Linked DNA regions of Homo sapiens. The protein of the gene in region 1 purifies or fractionates together with the protein of each later gene. This does not show direct contact. Each region holds a gene or a part of one and is shown on either strand. Other genes may lie near its edges.

The links. The genes of interacting proteins can lie anywhere in the genome.
Region 2: the proteins of RAB15 (region 1) and TOR1AIP2 purify together in Homo sapiens (affinity purification with mass spectrometry; 2 studies listed by BioGRID and IntAct, with this or other methods). This does not show direct contact.

Annotation. Positions count from the first base shown.
Region 1 is NC_000014.9:64,969,334-64,976,166, forward strand, and holds the start of RAB15 (ras-related protein Rab-15), read right to left. Parts: upstream 3,004-6,833; 5' UTR 2,744-3,003; coding exon 2,620-2,743; intron 1-2,619. UniProt on the Homo sapiens protein: The small GTPases Rab are key regulators of intracellular membrane trafficking, from the formation of transport vesicles to their fusion with membranes.
Region 2 is NC_000001.11:179,839,795-179,846,822, forward strand, and holds the end of TOR1AIP2 (torsin-1A-interacting protein 2), read right to left. Parts: coding exon 6,277-7,028; 3' UTR 182-6,276; downstream 1-181. UniProt on the Homo sapiens protein: Required for endoplasmic reticulum integrity. Regulates the distribution of TOR1A between the endoplasmic reticulum and the nuclear envelope as well as induces TOR1A, TOR1B and TOR3A ATPase activity.

The sequences.
Region 1 (6,833 bases):
CTTGAGAAACTGTCCATATCACTTAAGGAAAAAGCTTTTCTTGACCATCCAACTCTTTCCTTTAAGTTTTAGTTAATGCTGAAAAACACGCCCAAGATAAGGGAGAATCCCAAGTCCCTTAATAAGCTTTAAATAAGAAAGCATTTAAGATACCCAGTGGGGCAGATTTTAAAAGGCTGGTGTGAAGAAAGACAGGTTTCTTTCTATTCCATGGAATCCAAACTCCTAGAGTCCTCTGTGTCCTGTGGAAAGGGGGACCCTAGAGAATCCTCTGTGTCCTGTAGAAAGGGGAACCCGGGTGTCAGAAGCGGAGGAAGAAATCTGGGAGCCATCTTTAGGTTTTAGGCCAATATACCAAGGGCCTTGAGGGGAGACAGTGCTGCAGAGACACCCCTACTCAGTTCACTGATTCACCTATGTGCCCAAAGTGGTCTGCCCTGGAGGGTTTCAGGAAGTCCCTGTGACCTATTTAGTGTTCACCTATTAGCAGAAGGTGTCTAAGAAGGGAGATTACAAGGGGAAGGGACAAGGAGAAGGGTGGATGATTAGAGGTGTGAGGCAATGGACTCTCTTTAAGGAGAGCACGAGCCTCAGAGGGCCATCCTGGTATTTTAGAAAGAGGGGTGCCCTCAAAAAGGAGGGTATGTGTCTCCCAGGGGAGGCTGCCTCCCACAGCACTAAGCAGGAGTCCCAGAGCTTCTGAAATGAGGTGGTTGAATGAAGCCCTCAAAGGGAAAAGTCCATGTCACCTATAGGACTTGGAATGGGACTAGGAGAGCAGGTGCAAACAACAGCTCTTCAGGCCAAAGCCAGGGCCTCCCAGGCAGCCCACAGCTCTCTGGAGATAGCTCAGTAGTTCCAAGCACCAGGCCTCTCCCAAAAATAGCCACTCCTAGTTTCCTTAAGGGATAACCCACCGCCCTTTGTCCCTGAGCCCACAACCTGTCCTCATACACCATCTGGTTCCTCTGCCACTTCCTCCATCACGCCCATGCCTTTCTCCTGCACCTGCCTCTTCCCCAAGTCCTCCCGGCAGGCACAAAGCCTTAGTGTCTATAGGCTCCCCTTCTTTCTGCAATGTCTCTCATCCAAACCATGGCTCAGCCCAAGCTCCTGGGTTTCCTAAGAGTTGGCCTTACAGCTCCTCTGAGAAAGACGGACAAGTTCTGTTCCCTGACCCTAAGTCCTGTTGTTTCACCCTTCAAGTTGGTGAAACAAAGAGAGGAGACCCTAAAAGCTCAATGATAATGGCAATAGCAGTAAGAACAATCAGCATTTATCGAGCTTCACCATGTGTCTGGCTGTGCTAAGCACTTAACAATCGTTATCTCATTTAATCTTGACAACAACTTGGCAGGTAGGTGCAATTATTATACCCGTTCTACAGATGAGAAACTAAATAAAGCTCAGAAGTTTAGGCAATATTCAAGGTTGCTTTGCCCCACAGTGAGGTCTCAGGTCTCTTGGACAATAAAGCTGGCTTCTTAACCAGAAGGTTCTGTTCCTCCTGGCTGTATCTATCTGCTCCTACTTCTCTCTCAGCAAGGAATGTGTGTTGGGGGGAGGGGGGATGGTGTGGACATGAATCCTCAAGAGGAAGCTGAGAGCTGGTGCCCATCCCTGATGGCAGCAGGGACTTCTAGGAGAGCATTCCAAATGGATGACCAGCCAGCCAGCAGGTGTTTCCAGGGGCCTGGGCAATGCAGAGGCTACTCCAGGGCTGACCCGGGTAGCAGCTGAGGATGAAATTCCCTCTACTCAGACTTCTCAGGGAGGGGGCCCCTCACAGCCTAGAAGCGGGAGACTGACTGTCTCAGAGGGGAGGCCATGGACCCATTCCTAGAATAAGTGACCCCATCATAGTGCTGTCTGGGATGCCACCGGGTCTTGTCCCTCTAACCACAGGCTCCAGCACTGCCAGATGAGAGATGCCCTCAGGCGGGTCCTGCCTGCCTTCTGACCCCTTGGTCTGGGCAGGTATTCCTGACACTCCTCCATCCTCTTTAGCCTCCCTCAGAACAGATGTCTCCTCTTCCCAGGCGCAGGGGCTCCTCACCCTATCTGTGTCCTCCCCCAGGTGTCCCACCTTGCGGCTTACCTTCCCAACTCTGCCCTGGAAACTCGATCCCTGTGGCCCCTCCGTACGTCCTCTCTTCCCCCCCTCGCCCCCCGCCGGCTCCACCTTGGGTCACCACAGAACCAAGGGCGCCTCAGTGACTCCGGTCTCCACCCTGACCCCCTTTTCCGTAGCAGAAGCTTTACTTCCCCTCCCCCTGGGGGTGTGGGGATGTTATTCCAGCGGCTACGATTCTTGCTACCCCAGCTCGGGGTACCCAGGCCTACACCAGCTCCCCTCACCCCCGGTTTCTCGGTTTGATGGGACGGAAGGCTTCCCGGCAAGAGGCGGGAGACCCCACCCCTGGTCCGGACGGCAGGCAGCAGGGACACCCTCACCTGCCAAAACCTATGCTCACCCCGAGATTTATCCCGGACTCCGGCCTCCGGCGCCACCGCCTCCAGCCGGAGGGGCTGGCAATTCCTCCCCAGCTGGGGACGGGGGCGGCGGGGAAAGGGGCCGCGGGCGGGGAGGGAGGGGCGCCCCGGGCCACCGCCCCTTACCGATGGTGGAGATGTGCGAGGAGTGGAACTCGTTGTCGGTGAAGCGGCACAGCAGGCAGGTCTTGCCCACCCCGGAGTCCCCGATCAGCAGCAGCCGGAACAGCACATCGTACTGCTTCGCCATGACTGGGGCCAGCGGGGCCGGGAACTGCGGGCGGGCAGCGGGCTCAGCCCTGCTCCGCCGCTGCCATCGCGGCCCGCGCCCGCCCGGGGACGCTGCGGGCGGCGAGGAGGACGCCGGGCCCGGCCCCCGCGGCTGCCTCGCCCGCCCGCCTGCCCACTCGCTCGCTGGGTGCCGGGAAGCGCGGCTGCGGCGGGAGCCCGGCGCGGCGCCCGCTCGGCTCGGCTCGGCTCGGCTGGGCTGGCGCGAGGCGGTGGGAGGAGAAACCGGCGGCGGCCCCTGCCCGCCCCTTCCCCTGCGCCGCCGCCGCCGCCCCGGAGAGAGGGGGCGGGGAGCGCGCGCAGGAGAGCGGGACCCCATCGAGCAGGCGACGCTGGGGCGGGGCGCCAGCCCCCCCTCCCAACCCCTTCCTGCCCGGGGCGGGGGAACGTTTTCGTTTTTCCGCGGACGCTCCGAATGGGGGAGTTGAGGTGAGCCCCCACCCAGCCCACTTCTACCGTGCTCCGCTTTCCGGGCTCACCACTTCTCCCCATATCCCACCCCAAGTCTGGCGCCGGTAATTCCGCCCGCCGTGGCACCCTGCATCTGCAGGATCTGGCCGGGCTCCCCAGTGGCTGGTACCTCAGCTGGGCTCACCCGAGGTAGGAAGGCCTTGAGCAGGATCTGGATTCGAACACCCGTCTCCATGAGTCCCCGAGAGTGTGGGTGGAATTCCCCCTCCCTGCCATCTGGCTGCCCCTTACCTGTGTGACTGTGTCACGGCCCTCCCCCGTCCCCATTTTTTCTTTAAATGGGGAAAATGCCTATTCACGGCCTCCACCAGGGTGAAAAGATAGATGGCCATAAGAACATCTCCAAGTGCAAAATCCTTTAGAGGTGTGCGGGCAAGTCTCCGTTTTCCCTCTAAGGTGCTTAGGATAGGTGCCCAGGTGACCAATGTATTGTTTCAGACCCCTAAATTTCTCTGTGGTATAGCCAGTGGCACCAAAGAATGAATGGCCCTTGTTCAAGATCCAGTTTCCTACCACTGAATGTGTTAGCACCGGAGAGAGGCAAATGAATGCTCTCCGGAGTTGAGAAAATTGCCTATCCCTACCAACGAGTATTGAGGGAGAGCAAAGTCTAGCCTATTAGGTCTTTAAAAAGCAATGAAAGGCTAGGCGCGTTGGCTCATGCCTGTAATCCCAGTACTTTGGGAGGCTGAGGCGGGCAGATCACTTTGAGGTCAGGAGCTGGAGACCAGCCTGGCCAATGTAGTGAAACCCAGTCTCTACTAAAAATAAAAAAAAATTAGCTGGGCACGGTGGCTCGCCTGTAATCCCAGGCTTGAGAGGCTGAGGTGGGAGGATTGCTTGAACCCATTAGGGGAAGGCTGCAGTGAGCCGAGATCATGACACTGCACTCCAGCCTGCGCAACAGAGGGAGACCTTGTCTCAAAAAAAAAAAAAAAAAAGCAATGAAAAGTATATATGTACATACCTGTTTTCAGGCTGAATATTGGATGGAGAATGTATTTTTCAATAGTAGGTCAAGGAAAGTGGTAAGCCCATTTACTTCATTTGAAAAGGTATATTTCAGGTTAAGTGTCTGAATTATAATAAGAGGGGAAAAGTTCAAGACCAGCCTGGCCAACATGGTGAAACCCCATCTCTACTAAAAATATAAAAAAATTAGCTGGGCGTGGTGGCCGGTGCCTGTAATCCCAGCTACTCGGGAGGCTGAGGCAGGAGAATTGCTTGAACCTGAGAGGCGAAGGTTGCGGTGAGCCGAGATTGCGCCATTGCACTCCAGCCTGGGCAACAAGAGCAAAACTCTGTCTCAAAAAAAAAAAAAAAAAAAAGCCGGGGGGCGAAATCCCGAGCCTGCTAGCTACTCTGATTACACAGAAAGCTAAAGGAACTGATGTAGTGGATTCCATTATTTCGAGGTGCGCGTCTCCACAGTGGGCTTACATGGGGTTTCAGGTGCATGCCAAGGGCTCTGGAGTAAGGCACACTTGGGTTCCAGTCCCAGTGTCACCACTCACCAGCTGTGCAATCTTGAGCACATTACTGAACCCCCCTGTGACTCAGTTTCCTCATCTCAAAATAGGATATTTAGAGTGACTACCTTACAGGATTGCTGGAAAGATGAAATAAGATAATGCATGGAAAGGACAGGCCGTCGCGGTAGCTCACGCCTGTAATCCCAGCACTTTGGGAGGCCGAGGCGGGCGGATCACGAGGTCAGGAGACCATCCTGGCTAACATGGTGAAACCCCGTCTCTACTAAAAATACAAAAAATTAGCCCGGCGTGGTGGCGGGCGCCTGTAGTCCCAGCTACTTGGGAGGCTGAGGCAGGAGAATGGCGTGAACCCGGGAGGCGGAGCTTGCAGTAAGCCGAGATCACGCCACTGCACTCCAGCATGGGTGACAGAGCGAGACTCCGTCAGAAAAAAGAAAAAAAAAGAAAGGACAGCATAACACTTGACCCAGCACTCAATAAAGCAGAGGTGCAGAAAACACCCTGTAATGTTTCCCCTGTGCATCCCGGGTGGTAAGAATATCCCACAGATGAATATGGCCAGGGATGTTTTCTAGGAACCGAGGCCCAACCTGCTGTGATTTTCCTCCCACGACCACCAGAGTACCGAGCGCAGATCCAACCCAGCCTGACCCCCTTTGGGCACCGCAGCTGCCTTCCCATTGATCGGCACTGTAATGGTAAATAGCTCTCTGCAGGCCTCCTCACTGGGACCTTTAGTGGCTCTCTGCTTGCTTCTGTCTGAGAAAACAGGAAAGAAAATGCAAGCTGACGTGGATTCCTCACTTCATTTTGAAAGAAATGGCTTTCCCTAGGCAAGACAGGAAAGGGAATGAGGTTTGCTGAAGGAATCCAGAGAAATAAATGTTCATACTCATAAAAAATTGAGCATATGTAGTCATACTGGACTGACCTCAAATTCAGTAGCTTACATTGCTTTAGAAAAAAAAAAAAATGGCTGGGCGCGGTGGCTAACCCCTGTAATCCCAGCACTTTGGGAGGCCGAGGTGGTCAGATCACCTGAGGTCAGGAGTTCGAGACCAGCCTGGCCAACAGGGTAAAACCCCATCTCCACTAATAATGCAAAAATTAGCTGGGCATGGTGGCGCACGCCTGTAATCCCAGCTACTCCGGAGGCTGAGGCAGGAGAATCGCTTGAACCCGGGAAGCAAAGGTTGCAGTGAGCCAAGATCCTGCCATTGCACTCCAACCTGGGCGACAAGAGTGAAACTCTGTCTCAAAAAAAAAAAAAAAAAAAAAAAAAAAAAGGAGTGTATGTAGTCATACTGGACTGACCTCAAATTCAGTAGCTTACATTGCTTTAGAAAAAAAAAAAGACCAGGCGAGGTGGTTCATGCCTGTAATCCCAGCACTTTGGGAGGCCAAGGTAGATGGATCACCTGAGGTCAGGAGTTTGAGACCAGCCTGGCCAACATGGTGAAACCCCATCTCTACTGGAAATACAAAAATTAGCCAGGCCTAGTGGTGGGCGCCTGTTATCCCAGCTACTCGGGAGGCTGAGCCAGGAGAATCGCTTGAACCCAGGAAGTGGAGGTTGCAGTGAGCCGAGATCGTGCCACTGCACTCCAGCCTGGGCGACGGAGCAAGACTCTGTCTCAAAAAAAAAAGAAAAGAAAAGGCCGGGCGCGGTGGCTCACGCCTATAATCCCAGCACTTTGAAAGGCCAAGGTGGGCAGATCACAAGGTCAGGAGTTCGAGACCAGCCTGACCAACATGGAACCCTGTCTGTACTAAAAATACAAAAATTAGCTGGGCGTGGTGGCACGTGCCTGTAATCCCAGCTACTCAGGAGGCTGAGGCAGGAGACTCACTTGAACCTGGGAGGTGGAGATTGCAGTGAGCTGAGATCACACCACTGCACTCCAGCCTGGGCAACAGAGCAAGCAAGACTGTCTCAAAAAAAAAAAAAAAAAAAAAAAAAGAGATGGGGAATAGTTTAGAAACCAAAACCCAAGCTTCAAATATTCATCCTCATCCTCATCTGTGTTCAGCCACTTTCAGAGCCATCATACAGATCTCTCTGTGTGTCTATGTGTGTGTGTGTCTATA
Region 2 (7,028 bases), on another chromosome or scaffold:
CCCTATACCATTTCACTGATGGCCACAAAATGCCACCTGACAACCCTCACAGGATTCTCTAGCTCCTCAGCTTACTGCCATATGAGGGCAGTTTCCTTTCCCACCATTAATCACCACATGCCCATTTCTATAAACCTGCTATTTTGGGAAATTTAATCAAGAATCAGTCCGCTGAAAAAAATTCAGATTTATTCTTTATTCTGGTAATGGCCAACTAATCTGAATAAGGCACATCATCAGCATCTATAAGAAACAAATACAAAAGCAATCCCTGTTATACAGAAAGGGAGTGCAGAGAAGTGGGACGTTAGTATTGGCAAAGCACACATATTTTTTGTTAAGCACAAATAAGCAAAATGCAATTGAGTTTGAAAGTCAGTGTGCTGTTTCTTTTATGACAGGAAAGGCAAATAGATTTAAATTTCCTGTGCTCTCTGATGAACCAGGAGCAACTGCCTGGAGCTTTGTGTTGATGCGTCCTCAGGCCTAGAAGGAACACAGAGAGTAGGGCTGTGACTGCCGGGGGCTTGGCCAACTCTGCCCCATACAATGTGACTCAGCCTGTTGCTTCCCAAGTCTAAAATGTTCTTTTTGGTTCATGTAACTGCGCTTAGCCAAAGGCAAATTTAGTTTATAAGCCTCAGTGAGGAAAAGCAGGAGACCATTTGCCAAAATAAGAACCAATTTATGGGCTTTTCAAGACATCACAGCAAGCGGGCACAGATAATGCAGATAATACTGGAAGGAAAGGTACTGAAGACTAAGGTATTTACCTTTTTGCAGATTAGGGGATACTGATTATGTTCTCAGGCCATTTGGATTGGCCTATAGAGATACAGAAGTTATAGCACAGTTTACCAAACATCGCATGTTCTCACTCATAGGTGGGAATTGAACAAAGAAAACACTTGGACACAGGGCAGGGAACATCACACACTGGGGCCTGTCAGGGGGTGGGGGGCTGGGGGAGGGATAGCATTAGGAGAAATACCTAATGTAGATGACGGGTTGATGGGTGCAGCAAACCACCATGGCACGTGTATACCTATGTTAACAAACCTGCATGTTCTCCACATGTATCCCAGAACTTAAACTATAATAATAATAATAATAATAATAATAAAGAAGTTATAGCACAGTTTATTAGCTAGAAATGAATTTTAACAGCCCTGTCTCAGTCTGAATGAGGCAAATTTAGGCCCACATCATTAGGTATTTCACAACTTAACACCTAAAATTTAACATAAATTTACAAAAATAAGGCTTATTTTAAAGTCATCTGGAGAAACTGTTTTACAGGTATCTTAACTTTATTTAGCTCTCTGTAGAATTAACATCTTTGCAAATATATTATTCAACCAAGCATTTGCCATAAAGATAAGCATCAACTTTCCCATTGGACAAGTGATAGTGTTCAAGCTACTTGACTTGTGAAAAACAAAAAACCACCATGACTTCTCAACAAATACATTTTAAAATGAAATATGCTCAGGCTGATAAACAAACAAGATATTAAAATGGAGACTGACATTGAACTACATAGTCAACTTGAAAAACACAAGAAGACAATGCTCCTATAAAATGATATATTATTGGCTTTACAAAGACATACTGGTTTATGTTTACAACTATGTTTTATTTTCAAATGGTAAAGGAAAGGCTTCATGTTGCTATTTGAAAGTACTTCTCAACTAGCCGGGCATGGTGGCATAATTCCTGAAGTAGGAGGATCATCCCCTTGAGGCCAGGAGGTCCAGGCTGCAGTGAGCTGTGATTGTGCCACTGCACCATAGCTTGGGTGACAGAGTGAGACCCTGTCTTTAAAACAAAAAGAAAGTACTTCTCTGCAAGTAAATTTTATGGATATAATCTTTATTCTGATTAAATAAATGATTACCCTAATCAGCTATTATTTATTATTTTCTATTTAACATTCATTTTTGAAGTGCCAGAGACCTGCCTATGTCGCATAAAGTTTGGTCAGATATATGCAAATGCAGTGTTGGTGAAGATCATCTGAATAATGATCACTTTCACATGCCATATTAGTTATATTTTAGTATCACTGCTCATTGTGCTTCCTCTCTTTAATAAAGTATAAATCAAGCAATTAAAAGCTGTGTAGGCCAGTCGCGGTGGCTCACGCCTGTAATCCCAGCACTTTGGGAGGCCGAGGCGGGTGGATCACTTGAGGTGAGGAGTTCGAGACCAGCCTGGTCAACGTGGGGAAACCCCGTCTCTACCAAAAATACAAAAATTAGCTGGGCGTGATGGCACGTGCCTGTAATCCAGCTACTTGGCAGGCTGAGGCAGGAGAATCGCTTGAACCTGGGAGGCAGTGGTTGCAGTGAGCCGAGATATCGCACCATTGCACCCCAGCCTGGATAACAAGAGTGAAACTCTGTCTCAAAAAAAAAAAAAGGCTGTTAAAGGGTCAAAACCATCTCAGCGGCTAGCACTATTTAGTGGAGTCACTAGCTAAGAGAATGGTGGGTTACCAGCATGCTGAGCCTTATTAACCACCATACACTTGGGGGCTTCCAAATGAAATGTATTGAAATGTCTTTATTGATTGCTTTTTAAAATAGAAATATGAAACAAATTAGCATTACTATTTTAGTGATATGAACACCTTTAGTGATATGAACTTGTCCGCCAACTCCTGGAAACTAACCAGAAAACCTAAAATTTACCCTAAGGGAAGAAAAACCTCAAGTCCAAAGACAGTTTCTGATTCTACCAATTGGTTCTACAATTCTGGGATTACTCAAGAAGTAATTTATATTAATATACAGTGTAATGAAAGTTGTTCTGTAAGAGTAACTAAATGGCAACGTTTAGGTACCACATACAATATTGTATGCCCACAAATCATTTTTCTAAGTCAAATAAGCAAATTATCTTTGACAATAAAAGACGAATTACTAGACACACAAAAGAAAATCTGAAACCTTAAAAAATGTCAATAGGCCGGGTGCGGTGGCTCACGCCTGTAATCCCAGCACTTTGGGAGGCCAAAGCGGGCGGATCACGAGGTCAGGAGATCGAGACCATCCTGGCTAACACGGTGAAACCCTGTCTCTACTAAAAATATTTTTTTAAAAATTAGCCAGGTGTCGGGGCGGGCACCTGTAGTCCCAGCTACTTGGAAGGCCGAGGCAGGAGAATGGCATGAACCCAGGAGGCGGAGCTTGCAGTGAGCCAAGATTGCACCACTGCACTCCAGCCTGGGCAACAGAGCAAGACTCCATCTCAAAAAAAAAAAAAAAAAAAAAAGTATAGAACAAATAGAAATTAACCTAATACATTAGATAATAGATTTGAATTATCTGTACATTTATAAAATATGGTCTTATGTTTAAAAATAGTCATTTTAGTCATGAGAAGACCCAGAGCTAATATACTGCTTCTTTTAAAAATGATTTTTGAGGCCAGGTGCAGTGGCTCGTGCCTATAATCCTAGCACTTTGAAAGACCAAGGCAGGCGGATCAATTGAGGCCAGGAGTTCGAGACCAACCTGGACAACATAGCAAAACCTCGTCTCTATTAAAAATACAATAATTAGCTGGGCATTGTGGTGCATGCCTGTAATCCCAGCTACTTGGGAGGCTGAGGCACAAGAATCACTTGAACCCAGGAGGTGTAGGTTACAGTGAGATGAGATTGTGCCACTGCACTGCATTCCAGCCTGGGTGACAGAGCAAGACCTTCTCTCAAAAAAAAAAAAAAAAAAAAAAGAAGTTTGGTTGGGTGCATTGGGTCACATCTGTAATCCAAACACTTTGGGACGCTGAGGTGGGAGGATCACTTGAGGCCAGGAGTTCAAGACCAGCCTAGGCAACACAGTAAGACCCTGTCTCTATACAAAATAGTGTGGTAGAGTGGTGTGGTAGTCTGCACTTGTAGTCCCGGCTACTCAGGAGGCTAAGGTGGGAGGATTGCTTGAGCCCAGGAGTTTAAAGCTACAGTGAGCTATGATCAAGCCACAGCACTGCAGCCTGGGAGTCAGAGTGAGACTCCATCTCAAAAAAAAAAAAAAAAAAAAAAGACTTTTGAAATAGCAGACAGAAAACTGACAACACCCTCAATTGATTGCACTATACATGGAAGGGAAAATGTTTTTAAAAAGGCTAAATTAAAAATTATGACTTTAGAAATTTATTTTTCTAAATTATTTTGAAGAGAAATGATGAAAAACCATATTCAACTGAATGAAGAAACAAGAATATGCGACATACTGGTTCCTTGACAGATCTGAGGTAGCACAGGTCAGCAGGCCAATATAATAGTTATACAAGGCAACACTGGTTTTGTGGATGTAACGCTAGCATCTAAGATCTAAAAAGACAGAAAAAATGTGCATATGGGATACAGATTTTCCTTCAACTTCCTCTGCTTTTATACTGGATTGACAGTGATATCACATTCACCATGCTTTAACTTTTTGTTCAGGTCTCTTCCCAAATCTCTTGGAAGCTTCCTTCGAAGTCCCAAATGCAAATTCTTCCTTCAGGTATGCCCCTACACTCAATTGAGCAATTACTCAATTGTAATCTTTTTAGGTATCAGTAAAGATCCCTGTATCTTCTTAGTGTTTCCTAAAATCTTTCCATACTTTAATCAGACTTCTTAGCTATATACATATGATCTCATATAATGGAGAGGCCAAAACCCAGTTGAAATAATCCAGGATTATGGTAATAGTCTATATAATGGAACAGACCCTTTGTTAGGTCGAGATCATTTTACTAGAGTTCTGCTTTCAGAGCTCAAATGCTAATCAACTCTATCTCCATACAAACTGTTTTCAATCTTTCTTACAATCACAGAACATGGTCCGTCAGTACTGAACATCAAAACCTCTGAGAATCTACCCACCATTTCTGCTTCCTCTCACTAAGTATAACATCTCTTAGATTTCTCTAATTTTTAACCTAATGGTACTTCTATAACTAGTTGGTCAAGAAATGAGCTGCATTACATAATGTTCCATCACTGCATAGAAATAAACTGGTAAAGTTATGCCAAATGTTCATATAAAATTTACTATTAAATTGGTTATTCAAAAATAAATTTTTAAAATAAAACAAATAAATTGGTTATTAAAATCTGTTCTGCTGAAAGAGTCTACAAACTCTTACCCTAGACAAGTATAAAATTCCATGCAGAGGGGACAGAAATGACGATTAACAGAAATGAACAAAAGCATCAGAGACATGCTAGTAAATGCTAGCTTATACATTCTGCTGTTCATGTATAGATCTTTATCCTTCATAAATAATGTATCTATACAATAAACCTGTATTTCATCTTCCTACTCATAAGATTTAATACATTCATTTTTTAAACATATTTCCTATCTTCTAAGATGTTTTTTCACTTAATCAATGGTTTTCAAACTCGAATATCAGTGAAACTCTTTGTTCCAATGAAATCTCATAGAGAACCCCAACATATAAAACAGTTAAAAGCAGAACTGCTCTGATACAAAGGGGAAGGGTGCCAGTAGACACAGTTTGAAAATCAATGCTGTAAATTGTTCAAGAAAAGCTGAAGTAAAGATATAGCCAATTGGAATTTCTTCATTTCCAATGATTATAAACAATTTCCCCACTGGTTCTCATTTTTAAGAACATTTGAGTACAGCTGCTTATACCTCAGCTGAATGAAATAAAAGCACAGTGCCTTACATGTAGTATTTAGGTAGGTACTTAATGGTTTGAATTCTTATTTCTTTTATCATACTACTCAAAACTGCAAAATTAATATAAGATATAATCCCGTAACTTTAGATTATTAAAGTAAGGTTTGAAAATATTCAACATGTGATAGAAAAATTTTCTAAAGGTTATCATTGCTTCATAATTCTAATTGCTTTAGTCCAAGTCCAAACATTATCGAAAAGGTTCTTCAGAGTCTCACTCAAGAAAAAAAAAAAATCACTCTGTAGTTACTCTAAGAAGTAAGAGTATCTTCCTGTGCAATGTTGCTATATTTTAGAATTTAAAAAAAATTCTCATATATATCATCGATATTTCAAACCTGATTTGGTCCAAAGAAAAAAAGTCAGGTTAATTTTTAGCTTTGTCAAGGCTTAGATTAGAAAGATTTTACAAGGAATAAAAAATAAAAACTTGTTTCTAAAATAAGCTCATCTTTGTTTTTCAGGCTATTTCCTCAAGCTATTTTATCAACCTCCTTCCATATAAATGGAAGGTCTTTAAACAAACTTTTTCATAAACATATACCTTCTGTAACCAACTCTGTGCTTAGCTTTAGAAAAGGCACCCCTGTTCTTCTATGCTACTCACTGGCTGGACTGGCAGTACCAGGTGTGAAATTCGGCTCCACAGCCCACTCAATTTGTCTGAGTCCATGTGGTTGAAGGAGGTGGGAGTGTCAGAGTTGGTAAACTTGGCCCAGAGTAAGTCTCTCACTTTTTCTTCCGTTTCCCTTGGGCCTACACTTGCTTCTAATGTTTCCTCCTCTAGCAGAACAGTCAGGACCAGGGCCACATCTTTAAAGGCAGCATTCTCATGATCACAATACTTATAGAAGATCAAAGTGGAGCCGGCAGGGAAGGATTCGAAGTGGTGTACCACAGCAGCCTTCTGGCCATTCTCAAACCCATAGCTCAGCTCCAGGTCAACCAACAGCTTGACCGTGTCACTGTCCTGCCAGGTCCTTCCAGCCCCATCAATCTGAATGGGAGAGACTTTCTGGGAAGAGGTGTAGGCATCTGCAACATGGTGGCTCAGGCACTTCAGGGTCTCTCTTCCCTCCCGAGCTGCTGTAAATATGATGGTGGCTGGCTCAGTGGGGTTGGAAGCATTGAGGTGCTTCTGGAGAAACTTCCGTCCTCTCTGCCACAGGAAGGAACTCTGGCCTGGAAATTTATCTTCCAATTGGCTAAACTGGGCCAAAAAGGCCTCCAAAGCTGGATTTTTGGGCACTTGCTGGGCTGGAGAGGAATAGTAGCTATTCACAGAACTTGCCACAACAGCCACAACCAGGACGACAAGAATCA